Linked DNA regions of Homo sapiens: region 2 is linked to region 1. The links come from fine-mapping of genetic effects on gene expression. Tissue or cell type: tibial nerve. Region 1 holds a variant in brackets; the other region holds the start of a gene. All regions are shown on one strand. Distances are between the middles of the regions.

Region 1 (8,105 bases):
GTAGGAAAGGGGAAGAAACAGAAAAATACATGGTAAAAATTTTAAAAGGTGGTATTAAAAACTCCAATTTTATCAGTAATCACAATAAATTTAAATGACTTAGACCCATTTGTTCGGAGATATTCCCAGATAAGATTTTTAAAATCCAGTTATAAGTTGTTTATAACTGACCTAATAGTTAAAACATAATTATACAAAAAGCTTAAAAGTAGAAGGATAGGGAAAGATCATAAATACTAATAATCAAAGGAAATGAGATATAGTGACATTAATAGCAACCAGAAGAGATGTCATGGTTTTAAAAAACTTGAGATTTAAAGAGGGTGACTGTTCACTGACAAGAAGAACAATTGAATAGAAATCTATAGTGAAGCTGAACCTGATTGCTCATAATACTATAACCTCCTTAAAGATGACAGGATTATCAGGGAAAATTGACAGAGGATATTAAGCAAAATACATAGCAAAATTGACAGACTTGTGGGAGAAACTGACAAACCTACATTTGTAATGAGAAATTTTAACACTCCTTTTCCAGAAATTGATGAAACAGATAAAATTATTAACATTTGTTTGATGTCCATATATAAAATCTTGTTTCCAATAATTAAAGAGTACACTTCGTTTTCAAGTGGAACATTTAAAAACTTGCCAGGCGCGGTGGCTCATGCCTGTAATCCCAGCACTTTGGGAGGCTGAGGTGGGCGGATCACCTGAGGTCGGGAGTTTGAGACCAGCCTGGGCAACATGGAGAAGCCTGGTCTCTATTAAAAATACAAAATTAGTTGAGAATGGTGGTGCATGCCTCTAATCCCAGCTACTCCGGAGGCTGAGGCAGGAGAATCGCTTGAACCCAGGAGGTGGAGGTTGCAGTGAGCCGAGATGGCGCCACTGCACTCCAGCCTGGGCAACAAGAGCAAGACTCTGTCTAAAAAAAAAAAAAAAAATTAGATGGCCATGGTGGCAGGGGCCTGTAATCCTAGTTACTTGGGAGGCTGAGGCAGGAGAATCTCTCGAACACGGGAGACAGAGGTTGCAATGAGCCAAGATCGTGCCACTGTACTCCAGTCTGGGCGACAGAGTGAGACTCCATCTCAAAATAAATAGATAAATAAATAAATAAAAACTGACTATATAATAGGACACAAAGGAAGCGTTAACAGATAATAAAAATTTGATATATTAGTGACAGATTCTATGACTTCAGTGCAATAAAGTTATAAAACAATTTAAAAAATTGGGTCCAAAGCACCTCACTTATTTTCTTTATTGTAGTGAACTATATAATATGTATAAAAGAATATGTTAATACACAGAATTTAAAGAAATATACCGTAAACATCTATGTAACTGTCACCCAGATTAAAAAACAGTACATTTTGGCCGGGCGCAGTGGCTCACGCCTGTAATCCCAGCACTTTGGGAGGCTGAGATGGGTGGGTCACGAGGTCAGGAGATCGAGACTATCCTGGCTAACACAGTGAAACCCCGTCTATACTAAAAATACAAAAAAAAAAAAAAATTAGCCAGGTGTGGTGGCGGGTGCCTGTAGTCCCAGCTACTCGGGAGGCTGAGGCAGGAGAATGGCGTGAACCCAGGAGGTGGAGCTTGCAGTGAGCCGAGATCATGCCACCGCACCTCCAGCCTGGGTGACAGAGCGAGGCACTGTCTCAACAACAACAACAACAAAACTCAGTACATTTCCAGGATCTCAGAAACCTTATGTATACCCCTTTCCAGCTGTATTCTCTTCCTGTTCCCTAGGAAGAGGTATCCACCACTCTGACTCTTAGGGCAGAGGTCCCCAACCCCTAGGCCATGGTCCAGTACCAGTCTGTGGTCTGTTAGGAACCAGGCCGCACGGCAGGAGGTGAGCGGTGGGCCAGTGAGCATTACTGCCAGTGAGCTCTGCCTCCTGTCAGATCAGCGCGGCATTAGAGTCTCACGGGATCTCGAACCCTATTGTGGACTGTGCATGTGAGGGATCTAGGTTGCAAACTTCTATGAGAATCTAATCATCCCTCGCCCTATCTTTAGGGTACTCATTTTTGTGCTTTGTTCTTACTGTTTTACCACTTGTGTATGTGTTCCTAAACAGTGTTGATGAGTTTTGACTGTTTTTCATCTTTATGTTAATGGAATCGTATTTTCTATCCTCTGCCTGGTGTCTGGTCATGTGCTGGGTACAGAGAATATAGAGTTGAATTAGACAGGAGTCCTCCCATCAAAATGATCATATTTGGTTGCAGAAATGGTAATTGCCACAGTAGGAATTAAGCTGTGGAGTAGGGGTATCACATCACAATCATGTTGTTGAAAAAGAGACTTCTTAAAGGAGTTGAGAGTTGAAATGAATTTTAAAATGATTTGACTTATTTTCCAATAAGACAAGGGAGATGAGAATTGCCATCAGTGTGAACATCAACTGTAGATCAATTCAGCCTTGTCTTAGTCAAGATTTCAAACTAGCTTAGACCAAAAAAAAAAAAAGTTAAAAAAGATTTACATAAGTGAACAGTCCATGTGATATGACTTCAGGCAAGACTGGATCCAGAAGCTTAATTAATTGCCAGCTTTAATCTCTTTTTTTTTTAATTTTAGAAAATAGAGATGGGGGTCTCAGCATGTTGCCCAGGCTGGTCTTGAACTCCTGGGCTCAAGCGATCCTCCTGCCTTGGCCACCCAAAGTGCTGGGATTACAGGTGTGAGCCACTGTGCCTGGCCTCTATCTCTTTCTATATCTATCAGATAGACTTTCTCTACACAGTGAATCAGATGGTCCTCAAAAACCTCAGACTCACTTCCTGTTGGCTTACCATTACAAGTAAGTGGTGCTCTCTTTTGTAAGTTCAAGCCAAAATTCCCAGAGAAGATTCTAACAGGTCCTGTTTGGGCCATGTCCACATTCCTACATTAATCATTGTCCCTAGAAGAATAAGGTGTTCTTGTTGTTCTAGATCACAGACTAGATCACCTGCCCATCTTATCCAAACCACATAGAACTGGCTCCTCACATGAGAGAAGGATTCTGTTCCCAGAAGTGAGAAAAAATCCTAAGAAGGCAAAGGCAACTGGAGTCCACCTGCAGTATGAGAGGTCACTTAGCATTTGAGAAACCACAGGCTCTTTGGTGTGACTGGGGAGTGGGCTGAAGGGGGACATGATCAGAAAAGAAGTAGGCTGGGGAGGTGACAGAGATGCAGAATGCGTGGACAACCAAGTTTTATTTTATGCTGAACATAACAGAGGCTTTACAGTGATTGGAGAGATTGAAGCAGAGGGTGACAAATTCAAATGCTCATTTTAGGAGGCTCCCTCTGGGGCCTGCAGGAGAGAGGGCTGGAGTGCTAAGACTGTTACAATAATCCTGGTGAGGAGGCTGAAATGAGATAGCAGGAAGGGAAGCCTTGTGGGGCAGGGATCAGGGCATGATCAGGTAGGAAACTAAGAAAGAAGTCGACACCATAGATGGGGGTAATGAAGGACGGGATGATGAAGGGAGAAGAGTCAAGCGACAGTCACGTTTCACATCTGAGTTTCAGGTGAGGATGTGCATCACCAAGACGAGGAGCCTGAGTCTGATGGGCCTATTCTGTGGTGGCTGTGGCTTTGCTCTCTCCCCAGCTTCTAGCCTCGTGTTAGAAACGCTTGAGGTTCTTGGTAAACCCTTATGGGTAGACTAACCGGGAATTGAATTGAAATGCAGATTCTAAGTGTGGCTTATGCTTCAAGCTGCAGGTCTCCTTGAGGACCCATTGCCAAGGCCTCGACAGCCCCATTGAAGAGGGCTGGGACTGAGCCTGTGTGTGTGTGTCTGTCTATGTGTCTGTTCCTATCTCTTTGTTTGAATGGGATGATTTTTCGCATACACCCCCTGACCTCCCTATCCTTGACAGCCAGGTTCCCAAGCCCAGGCATCCTACTGGCCAGGACCAGATAGGCTGTTCCTCCCAATACCTACTCTGGCATGGGGGTGTATCCCAAGACATTCTCCTCCTCTAGTTCCTCCCTTCCCACCCCCGCCAAACCTTCCAGAGGAAATCCTGGAAAGACTAGAGTGACAGAATGCATATCCCTACTCTCGCTAGAGACTAGGCTTCAGAGGGACCTGGCCATAGACAGGTGCTGCACCCTGCTGTGTGTCAGGTGCTCTGCAATGCCTTCTCTCCACTCACACTCACAACACTCTACGAGGCTAATAGTAGCACTACCCCCAATTGACAGGTGAGGACCTGAAGCCCAGAGAGGCAAACTGCATTGCCTGAAGCCCCTAATTGGTAATTATGGGATCTAAGTGCAAGTCTAATCAGAAGGTTGTGGGCTTCAGCCTCCCTGGGACTGTTGTCAGGAGGCAGGCAGCTGGAAGTGGTAGGGTCCCAGGCTCTTTAGAGAAGAAGCTGGGCTCCAGAAGGGGTAGACCAGAAGCCCAGCTTTCCTGGACCCACACCAGCCCCTCCCTGTTGGGTCTGGGTTTCTGGGGGCCCACGCAGCTGATGGTGATAGGCCAGAGAGGGTTGGTGGAGATGGGGGGAAGGGCTGGAGGTGTGGGTGGCTGGGGGTGGGTTAATGCTGCTGCCTTATGAAGGACATTTTTCAACTGAGCCGGTAACTGGAGGCCCTGTGA[G/A]TGTGTTCTGTCTCAGCAACTCCACAATCAGAGGATATGAACTGGCTGTGAGAAAGACATCAGGGGCTGGCTATTCCCAAACTCTTAGAAGGCACAGAGCTAGATTTAATAAAAGGAGAAAATGGAACATTCTCATTAGCACCAGATTTTCCATTTAATTTGGACTTTTACAAAATAAGTAGCCTAATTACTGCCATGATTTGAGCTTCTCAATAGGTTTTTCCTCTAAGAAGCTGCAGACGCCACACAAGCCCCATTCTCCAGGGCTCGCCCTTGTGCCACAGACCCTCACCGCCCCTGCTTCTCTGGAAGCAGAAAGGCTTCTGAGGCCTGAGCGGGGAGGCAGGGCAAGGCACGGGAGGAGCGCAGGTGTGCTGGCTCAGCTGACCTCTCAGGGCCCTCCCTGCCCCTCCTGGGCCCCCAGCTCTCAGCAGCCAGTGGGGAAGATGCTATTCCGGAGCCTGCACGCCTCAGCACTGGCCTAGCCTGTGTCTGAGCCCTGGCCCGAGTCTTGCCTGAGTCTCAGCACAGGGCCTAGGAGGTTGCTGAACTAAGGTGAGGTGCCAGTACCTTCACCCCAGGGCTCTGTTCTTGGCCTATAGAAATGACTGTAGCCCTGCAGTGTCAGCACACAAACCATTTACACCGACCTCCCAGCACTAGAGAGGCTGAAGAGCAGGACTGACGCAGCCCCAGCCTGGGGCTCCAGCTCCCTTCTGGACCCTCAAGGGCACTTGCTGTCCCCATTAGGATGAAACCTGGGTGCCTCAGGCTGGAGTGACCTCCTTCATCTCTTTTCATACCTCCCCCATATCCCCCACATCCCCCTCCCTATTCTCCACCTCGGCCTTTGGCTTTTTCCTCTTCCTTCTGCGCTTGAAGAGAATCCGGGATTAAAGAAACGGAGCAAGAAATTGCCAAGAACTAGCCTCGCAGACAATCAGATAGAGGGATGGAGGGCAGGGGCCCTTCCCCCAAGAGGAGCCTGGGCCGTCCAGCCTGATGGGGCCTGGGAGACACGGGGTGTGCTGGCGGGCAGGGGCCATGTCCCGGGTGTGCACAGTGCTGGAAACATCCTCCTCAGCCATGACCTAAACCCAAGTCCTCTTTTGTCCCAGAGAATCAGTCCCAGCAAAGGTCTCACTGCTGGGCCCTTGTCCTAGGTACACTCTTCTACCCCATCCGTCCCCTGCCAAGGAAAGCAAACCCCTCTCTGGCCCCTCTCCAAACCAAGCCCTGCTGGCCCAACACCCCCAAGGGCTCCAGGCCCTGCCGCAGCCTCAGTCCCCTAGTTTTTCCCCCACTTCTCCAAGGAAGAAAGAGGTAACCCCAAGCCCCTTATGGAAGAGTAGTTGGAGGGATGTGAGGAGGCACCAAGAGAGATGTTATTACTAGGATTTTGGTAAAATAAGGTGAGATGTTTTCCTGGGGAGCTGTGAGGTCCCTCTGACCTGGAGGAGGCTCTTATTATATCGGCAATTTCTTGAGCCAGCCCCTTCGCAGGGGTCAAGGAGGACACAGAGGAGAGTCAGGTGCAGTCTCTGTTCTCATGGAGGGCTCAGGTTAGTGGGAAAGAAGTAGGTGATGTTCTCCCCATTTGTAGATGAAGACCAGAGCCTCAGAGATGTTGGGTGACATGCCCAAAGTCATCCAGCTGGGAAGTAGGAGAGCTGGGATTCATTCGTACTTCAGGGCAGGGCCTATGTCTATTTGCTTTTCATCACCGTAATGTCCAATATACATACAGCAGAGCGTGCGAGTCGATGGCTTGTTATGTATGTGCTCACCCATGGAATCACCACCCAGATCAAGGTCTCGGTCACTTCAAGCATTCCAGAAGGCTCCTTTATGCCCCCTCCAAGTCAGTACACCCCCACAGAGTTCCTCTCTATTCTGCAAATCCTGGCACGTTTTTTGTGGGGTGAGGGGTGACATTTCTTGGCCCAGGTGACTCCCTGCTGATGCTGTAACTCAGCTGTCCTGCAAAGATGGCATGGCCCAGCACCCAGCTGGCACACAACAAGAAACCCTGGCACTCTGGAGGGTGAAGAGAGGTGCTGTGGATAATGCCGGGACCACAAGGGTTAACAGGGGCTGTCCCAGCCTCACCTTCTCAACCCGGCCCTGGTGAGCCAAAGTTTTTGGTGGGAGGTGGCAGGGGCAGTGTGCTCATCTGTGGTAGCACAGACCTGGTCCTCCAGCCTCTTCTAGTGACCTCCCAGTCTCAGGACTCACCCAGGAGAGTGGTGGTAAGGGAGCTAATGCTCTCTGGGGTCTAGAACAGGCTTCCTTTGCCCCTGGTTTCAGGCTGTGCTTTCCTTAAGAGAGGACTTCAGAGGCAGCTAGAGGAGCCTCCATGTCTGCCATCCATAGACAATGGAGACTTAGGAAGCAGCACCCCATACCCCTGTCCAGCCAACTGCCCCAAGAGGCCTTCCCAAGCCTATGGGCCCCAGACCCCTAGCACCACAGCCAAGACCCTCACCTGCTCCACCCCACCCCGCCCCATCTGCATCCACGGGCCAGTGGGGGACCATTCAGTGAGATCCTCCCTGTCCTACGGCCTTGGCCGTGACCCCAGCTTGGCCTCTTTGTCTCTCAGCCAGGCCAGCCAGTTCAGCGTTAAAGCTGCTGGAGCATCCAAGGAGACATAAAGAAAGTTTAGAGACTTTTAATTTGCCAGCACGGCTCTCCGCTGGCCAGCAGGTTGAGCGTTTGTGGAGAAGGGCAGCCGCAATAAAGGCTTATTGTTCCTCTCTGAACCACTGCTCGTGACTCCTTTCTTAAGTGAGACAAAGGGAACCCAAGGCCCACAGGTGTCCCCAGGCCCAGAAAGCGGGGCCCACAATTAGCTAAAGTCCCCCAGGGTCAGGCTCTGGGGGTGGGGGCCCAACTCAGCCCCTGTCTAGGCTGTACTCACAGGAGAGCACAAGCCTGGGACATTGTCGGCAGGGAAATACTCTCCAGTGGGGACCCCAGGGCACCAGGAGACAGGACTCCCACAGGGAGGGGGCCAGAGCCCCCTGCAGAAGCACCACACGGAAGAGCAGCTGCAGGGGAGCCGCGGGGATGGGCCTCGTGGTCAGGGTCCTCCCTGGGTGCAGTGGGGGTGTCCCGGGAAAGGCTTCCAACAGCCAGAGAGGCATCTCTGGAGGGAGAGAGTTCCCCACCACAGGGAGCATGTGAGCTGGGAGGGCACCCAGAGGGAAGGTGGGGCTCCAGCTGAGCAGGTCACTTCCAGTGCCCAAAAGGCCAGACTTAGGAAGCCCAATCAGACCCTCTTGGCTGGGCAGAGAAAAGGCAGAGCACAGGAATGTGGTGACCCCCACAGAGACACCCTGCCACTGAGGCAGCCACTGGGAGCCAGGTAGCCACACCCCTGGGGAGAGGTGGCACCATGTCCCATAGCATGCCTTGCTGGGACCACCCAGAATCACATCCCATAGGCAGCACTGCTCAGAGTCTCGGAAAGGAGGCTGCA
Region 2 (8,105 bases), 140 kb before region 1:
TCCAGAACAGGCAAATCTATAGAGACATAAAGTAGATGAGTGGTTGCCTAGGGCTGGAGGTGGGCTGGGGGATTTGTGGAGTAATAGCTAAAAAGTACAGGGTTTCTTTGGGGGCTGAAGAAATATTCTAAAATTGGTTGTAGTGATGGTTGTACAACTCTGAATATGCTGAAACCCAATAAATTGTACACTTTAAGTGGGTGAATTGTATGATATATAAATTAGATCTCAAGAAAGCTGTTATCAAAAAAAAAAAAGACTTCCCTCCTCTATGTTCTATGAAACCTGTTTTTTGGGGTTTTTTTTTTGTTTTGTTTTGTTTTTTTTTTTGGCAGAGTCTCACTGTGTTGCCCAGGCTGCAGTGCAGTTACACAATCACACCTCACTGTAGCCTTGACCTCCAAACTTCAAACGATCCTCCCACCTCAGCCTACAGAGTAGCTGGGGCTACAGGTGCACACCACCATGCCCAGCTAATTGAAAAAAAACAAACTTATTTTGTAGAGATGGGGGTCTTGTTATGTGGCCCAAGCTGGTCTCGAACTCCCAGGCTCAAGCAATCCTTCCACCACAGCCTTTCAAAATGCTGGGATTACAGGCATGAGCTGTCACACCTGGTTTATGAAACCCTTCTTAAGTCCCAATAACACTGACCATTGCATACATGTCTCCATTGTTCCCTGCGCAGACTTGAGTAACTGTGACTGACACTCTTGCATTTATCTGCTAACATGTCTGTTTTGCATTTATCTGTTGACATGTCTACTTTCCTTTACTAAACTGTGGCCGCCTCAAAGCATGGAGTTCGCTCATTTTTTCTTGGAATACATAGTGTCTATACACTATGTGCACAGTATGTGATATGGTACATCATAAATATTTGTTAAAAGACTATCTTAAAGGCTTTCATGTGGAAAGGGAACTGTGCTTGTTTCATGCACATCAATGGGCAAAAATGGAAGACATAACAACATGTATTTTTAAGAATTTTCAAATACTCAGGGTTATTCCTTTCTTCAAAGCAGGGATTTCTGGGTTCTGAGAATTCTCTGAATTGATACTGAAATTCTGAGTACAATAAGAGTATGTACCTTTTTCTAGAGAGAACATACAGTTTTAGGCTGAGTGCAGTTGCTCAAGCCTGTAATCCCAGCACTTTGGAAGGCTGAGGCAGAAGGATCACTTGAACCCACGAGTTCGACACCAGCCTGGACAATACAATGAGACCCCCATCTCAACCAAAAACAAAAAAAATTTTTTTTAATTAGCCAGGCATGGTGGCATGTGCCTGTAGTCCCAGTTACTTGGGAGGCTGAGGTGGGAGGATCAGTTGAGCCCTAGAAGTAGAGGCTGCAGTGAGCTGTGATCATGACTCTGCACTCCAGCCTGGGTGACAGAGTGAGACCCAGGGAAAGGGAAAGAGAAAGGGAAAGGGGGCCAGGAAGAGAGGAAAGGAGGGAGGGAGGGACAGAGGGAGGAAGGAGAGAGAAAGAAAGAAAATACATAGCTTTTATAAGATTCTCAATGGTGTATGTAACCCCAAAATGGTTAAGATTTTTTGCTGCAAGTTTCAGTTACTGGAATGTACCATTCAAGGTAAGTTTTTTCCTAGGTTATACTACTTCAGTAGCTTCTCCTTGTCAAAAACAGAATTTACAGTATTGGTAGCTTAATAATCTTAAAGTATTTATTGACTGCCCATTATATGCCAGGTACTGAAGAAACAGTGGTAAACAAGACAAAGTCCCTACCCTTGCAAACTTACATTCTAGAAGGTGAAGACAAAAAAACAAACAAGTAAACACTTAAGAATATTCCATATCATATAGTGATGCCTATCATGAAGAATATAAAACATGATAAAATAGAGAATGATGGGAGAAAAGAGTTATTTTAGTTAGTGTCATCAGGGGAAGTCTCTCTGAGGAGGTTTCATTTGAGCAGAAATTTGAATGATGAGAAGGGCACTGAGGGAAAAGCACAGCACTTCAGGAATAAAGAGAACTGAAGGTACAAAGATCCTAACATGAGAACACTGAATACCAACACTTGAGTTCTCAAGGGAACAACCCATGTCTAATCTCCACTCTACATTTTCTACAACGTTCAGAAGAGTGTCTCCCACTCACAGTCAATAGTACTTGTTCAAGATAATTCACCATAATGGAAAGTAAAAAAAAAAAAAAAAAAGTTTTCGAAGAATCTTCACTGTTCAGGATCATCATGAATTGACTCTTCTTCAAAGTAGACAATATCATTAGACAAAGCAGGTAAAAATCTTTGGGATTATTGCAATAAGACAGAAAGGAAAAAAAAAGAACAAATACGCAAAGATGTTTTAGAAGTCCGTCCCAAGTGGATAGTCTTACAAGCATAAAGATTATCAGGCAAATTCTGTAAACAGAATTATGTGTTCAACCTGCCCTCCACCCCTAAAGCTTGGTGCTTTGCATTTATAGTGTGTATGATGCTCAAGAGAATGGAACTACAGTCAATGTGCATAAAGCAGACGGAAGTGGATTACAGTTCAAAAGGAGCTGTCCAGCAATCAACAGTTTAAACATTACTGGAAGTGTTCAGACACCGTAAAATCATGTCTCAAAGATATTACAAGGATAATTTACAGGAGAAAGTTACCAGTAGAACTTCATGACCTATAGAAAACTGTTCTGGTTCCTTCTCCCAGCCTTCAGCACCGTGCCTTTACACTCATTCTGTAAAAGGCCCCAGTGCAGCTAAGAGGATGAATTTTTAAACACCACATACATCATGCCAACAACGAAGAATTAACAGATAAATACTGTTTCAATAAGGGGAACGTAATAATTTGTTCATAACCACCTCAGTAACTGAAACTGGGGTTATTAAAATCTTCAAGATATATTTTTAAAGGCACAAGAAGAGCCTGAAGCAGTGAGCGCCCAGCACCAAGTTGAAAAAACATAACGACTTAAGGTTTGCTGTACCAATTCCATTTGCCTTGATTTCGTACCAAGCGGCGCGTCAGAAAGTACACGGAAAACCTAAAGAGGGAAACCCAACTGGGAACCCTTGACTCAAAGCACGTGAACAAATGGTGACGAGATGAGTTAAGCCAGCGGGGTAAGAGAGAAGGGACTGCGCCTAAACGGGAGTACGCAAGGCCACCTAGAGGATGCACAGACCTGCATGCATACGTTCCTGACCCTTCCAGCAGCAGAACCATCTGGGCCGCCACCCGCTGATAACAACGGAACCGTGGGCATTGGCCCTTCAACGCCGTCTCGCCCGCCCTCTCCAGTCAGTTTGGTGGATATTTCGGTGAAGGCTGCAGACTCTCAGAGTCACCCCTCCCTCAAGCAGCGTTCTCCGTACTCTTCGGCGCCGGGAAGCTCAGAGGGAGCTGGCCTGCTCTTACCTTCAGGTGTCGGCGGCGGCTCCTGCCGCTTCCCGCGGGACAGGAAGGCCTTGGGCAGCAGCAGCGACAGAGCCAGGACAAGCCCAGAAGCCAGAGCGACTCTCTGCACTGTGGAGTACGCCATGACTGCTCACGGTGGTCGCAGGTGCAGACGCCAGCCGGAACCGGAACCGGAACCGGAGCACGGGCTGCCGCTCCCGACCGAACCGCGGGCGGCGCGGACGGCGTCGCGCGAGGGACAAGGTGCGCGAGGCGCACGCATCTTCACCTCCACTGTCGGGAGTTGACCTGCTCCTCCCGCGTGGTTACCCGTCGCTGTAAATGGTACCCTCGCCTTCCCGTTCATACTAACTAAAAACTCCTCCCTCACTCCCCATGTTCATCTTTTACTGAGTCCTGTGCATTCTACCGCCTACACATCCGGCGGTCGTGCCCGGATCTCTATCCCCACTTACCACCACTGCCCCCCACCCACCCGTAGATCACAACATCCAGTTTCTCCTCATCTCCATGATCTCGCTGTCTTCCAGCTTCCACTCATGCCCCTCGCATTCATTATCCGTCTGCAGCCACAGGTGATAATGCTAAAACACAAGACTAATTCTCTTTCTCTCCAGCTTAAACCTTTTAACTCTCCATTATCTTCAGAACAATAGTTAAACTCCTTTCTATAACCTCAACGCCCTGCATGATCTGGTCTTACCAATGCTCCTTCCAAACTGGATGATTTGCTATTTCTTTAGCATATTGCTTGTCTTCAGGGAAGCTTTGCTTGTCCTGTTCCCACTGCCTGGAAAATTCCTGACACCATCTCCAGTTGTCAAAAACTTCTCTGAAGAACAGCTTAAAAACACTGCTCTCTCGAAACGTTTTCAGTCAGCCTCTCCTTTCTCTACAATCCCACCGTTCTTTGTTACTCTCTTCATTCGTTCATTTAACATTATTTTAGTTTTTACTATGTATTAGACCCTCAACTTGGCACTACAGGGTCTGATGAATAAAATGGATTCCCTTTGTAGGACAGATAATTATCCAAACAAAAAAAATGCAGGAAATATTCTGGATCCCCGAGCAGTCTTCTCAACTGGTACGAGGAAAAGTCAAGAAAAGCCCCTTTGAGAAGGTGAAATTGAGTTAGCTGTTGAAAAATGAGTAACTTATAGGCAGACAGGTGGGAGGGGTTAGAAAGGTATTCCGGAAAAAGGAGGCCAAAAAAATAAAGGCAAATCTGGAAGCTTCCTGGTGTGTTCAGAAAGCTATTGGTAATTCATTTTGGCAGGGCCATAGAGTAGTGACAGGACACGAAGTGCACAAATATAAGCAGGAGCTACATTGTGAAAAGCTTAGGTAGAACTTCCAGTTAAACATGACAGATGTAACATATGCATTTATCTTTGCTTTCCTGGGACAGTGCCCAAAAAGGAAAATAAAGAAATAAAGTATATAAACTACAAGACTAAATGCAATGATAGAAAACATGACAGCAGATGAGAAATGTCAATTTTGTAAGACGCACACAACACTGTCCAATAGACACATAATACCAGCCACATATGTAATTTAAATTTTTCCAGTAGCCACATTTAAAAAGTAAAAATAAGTAAAATTTATTTTAATAATATTTTAAACCAAGATAGCAAAAATATTTCAAATTTTATCAGCACGATAGTGTGGCTCGTTGGCGCCCACAGTAGACAGTGCAGGTGTAGAGCATAAAAAGTTAAATGCCTGTGGACTGAAAGCCTGTAAGGAGTGAACTAATTTGCCCCTCAGAACCCATGCTCTTAAGAATTGGAGGTACTGGGTTCCTTTAAAGCCAAGGGTGCAGAGTGGGTCTGAATGAAGGATTGGCTGGAAATCTGATTAAAAAGCAGTTGAGACTGGGCACAGTGGCTCACACCTATAATCCCAGGGCTTTGGGAGGCCAAGGCTGGAGGATGGCTTGAGGCCAAGAGTTCAAGGCCAGCCTGGGCAACATAGGGAGAGCCCTAATCTCTACCAAAAAAATGTAAAAAATTAACCAGGCATGGTGGTGTGCACCTGTAGTCCCAACTACTCAGGAAGCTGAGGTGGGAAGATCACTTGAGCCCAAGAGTTTGAGGCTGCAGTGAGCTATGATTGTGTGAAACCACAATTAATTATGATATATAAGATGATAATAATGCCTGAATGAAGCCAGTAGGGGCACCCACTCCAGCCAGGGTGACAGAGTGAGACCCTGTCTCTAAAAAAAAATTGTTTGATTTTTTTAAAGCAATGGATATCTTCTGAATCTCTTTCCTTGATTCATGCAGCCAGATGGGTGCCACTGCTGGCTTCACTCGGGCATTATTATCATTGATGTTATTAACATCACTAAAAGTTAGAGTACTAATTATGTTTTAGGCATCTTACATATCATAATTATTCCTCCCAATAACTTCAAGAGGTAAGCAATATTATTATATACCCATTTCACAGGTAAGAAAATGGAGCCCCAGAAAACATAATTTACTTGCCAACAATTACACAGTATAAACTGGATGCTATGATTTGAACACAGGCATGCTTACTCAAGAATTTGCCCTCTTAGCTACCAGGTTTACTGTCTGGGGAGGTTTAGTCAGAAAACCTCTGGACTCCTGGACTATAGATGCAGCTTAGGGAGGAGGTGACTAATGGGATGTGGTCTCTAAGAAATACAGAGGGGTCTGGAATGACCACACTCCCCCCCGCCCTCCGCCACCAAATTCTAGCTTGGGTAAATGGTAGACATTAATTCTATATAACATGATTTTAAGAATAGAAGAATCAGGTTTGTGAGAAAGATGAAGAGTTCAGATTTTGACTAGCTGAATTTGAAGTTCCATGAAATATCCAAGTAGAAATATCCAGTTGGATATATGGGCCTGGAGCTCAGAAGAGATGTTTGGGCTAGAAACAATAGGAAATCATCAGCCCATCTATAGTAAATGAAGTCTAGGAGAAGATGGCATTAGTGAGAGTGCTCATGTGAAGTTGTAAGAAGCCACAATGGAAACCTAGGTCACAACATTATGTTGAAGTTCCCATGTATGAGGACAGAAATGAGGTGGGAAATAGTGATCCAAGTGTTAAAATCTTTAATGAATGTGGAGTTACTACAAGGTTGGAAGGTGACAGGAACAGAAGAAGTAATGGGCAGCCAGATGACATGCTCTTCTAAGGAGCTGTGTTTTTTTTTAATTGTTTAAAAATTTTTATTTATTTATTTATTTATTTATTTATTTTTGAGATGGAGTCTTGCTCTGTTGCCCAGGCTGGAGTGCAGTGGTGCAATCTCGGCTCACTACAAGCTCCGCCTCCTGGCTTCACGCCATTCTCCTGCCTCAGCCTCCCAAGTAGCAGGGACCACAGGTGCCCGCCACCACGCCCGGCTAATTTTTTTGTTGTATTTTTAGTAGAGATGGGGTTTCACTATGTTAGCCAGGATGGTCTCGATCCTTGTTATGCACCCACCTCAGCCTCCCAAAGTGCTGGGATTACAGGCATGAGCCACAGCGCCTGGCCAGGAGCTATGGTTTTTAAAGGAAGAAGAGGAAGAAGCAATTTGGAAGCAGCAAGGGGAAACAAGTTGGGCATCTATTCTATTCCCAGGCTTTAAGCTGTGGGAAGAAAAATAGCTCTTACTTTGGGAGATCTGCAAGGGAAACAGAACCCAGAGGCAACAGCCTAGTTTTCATTAGAGGAAGACAGGCCGGGCGCAGTGGCTTATGTCTGTAATCCCAGCACTTTGGGAGGCCAAGGGGGGCGGATCACGAGGTCAAGAAATCAAGACCATCCTGGCCAACATGCTGAAACCCACCTCTACTAAAAATACAAAAATTAGCTGGGCGTGATGACATGCGCCTGTAATCCCAGCTACTTGGGAGGCTGAGGCAGGAGAATCGCTTGAACCCAGGAGGCAGAGGTCGCAGTGAGCTGAGATCGCGCCACTGCACTCCAGCCTGGTGACAGAGTGAGACTCCATCTCAAAATAAAAAAAAAAGAAAAAAGAAGAAGAAAGTTAAGAGAAACTTCAAAGAAGTCAAGGATATAGGAGTTTTTCTGATGATAGCTCTTGACTCTATACAGCACGGTAAGTGGAAGCTTTGGAAGTCAGAAATGGAGTCAAAGTAAAATATGAAGTGAGCAGGATGGAGATGAGGGGCAGTGTGCAAATTGATGACCTTGGGGGCTTGGAATTTAGATGGTGGCCAAGGTAAATGGGCAGAGATCGTGATCTCATTAGTCCTAGAAGTGGCCTAGAGAAAGGTGAAAACACAGTTATAGTACAGAGTATTTGGCTTGGAACATATTCATTGTTGCAGTCAGTTGGGATGTGCACCTGGAAGACATGGAAGCCTCCTTAAGGCGACAGAGCTGGTAGGCAGCTCATGGAGCTGGGGCAGCTTGGAGTGGGACCTGGGATGGCTGCTCTCTCTGGTGGCTGGTGGTATAACATCAGAGCTGGGAGTGCACTAAAATTGAAGATCTTAAGGGTTTAGGTTTTCCAATAAAGTATTGGTAGGGGGCTGGGCGTGGTGGCTTAGGCCTATAATCCTAGCACTTTGGGAGGCCTAGGTGGGTGGATCACCTGAGGTCAGGAGTTCGAGACCAGCCTGGCCAACGTGTTGAAACCCCATCTCTACTAAAAATACAAAAATTAGCCAGGCATGGTGGTGCATGCCAGTAATCCCAGCCATCCAGG

The links. PIP is the estimated chance that this variant, and not a neighbour inherited with it, causes the effect.
Region 2: RIC3 starts here. The variant in region 1 is fine-mapped to the expression of RIC3 in tibial nerve (GTEx, PIP above 0.99). The same link has a PIP of 0.9 or more in esophagus muscle, gastroesophageal junction, lung, sigmoid colon, subcutaneous fat and tibial artery.

The regions. Positions count from the first base shown.
Region 1 is chr11:8,305,927-8,314,031 of GRCh38, forward strand. No RefSeq gene overlaps it. Among named protein-coding and RNA genes, the nearest start is that of LMO1, 46 kb to the left of the region's middle. The variant G/A (reference allele first, on the strand shown) is at 4,625.
Region 2 is chr11:8,165,469-8,173,573 of GRCh38, forward strand. It overlaps RIC3 (RIC3 acetylcholine receptor chaperone), which reads right to left and starts at 3,557. Exons shown (of 6, transcript NM_001206671.4): 1 at 3,398-3,557. The coding sequence starts at 3,521. It overlaps RIC3-DT (RIC3 divergent transcript), which reads left to right and starts at 3,602. Exons shown (of 5, transcript NR_187234.1): 1 at 3,602-3,721; 2 at 4,417-4,520.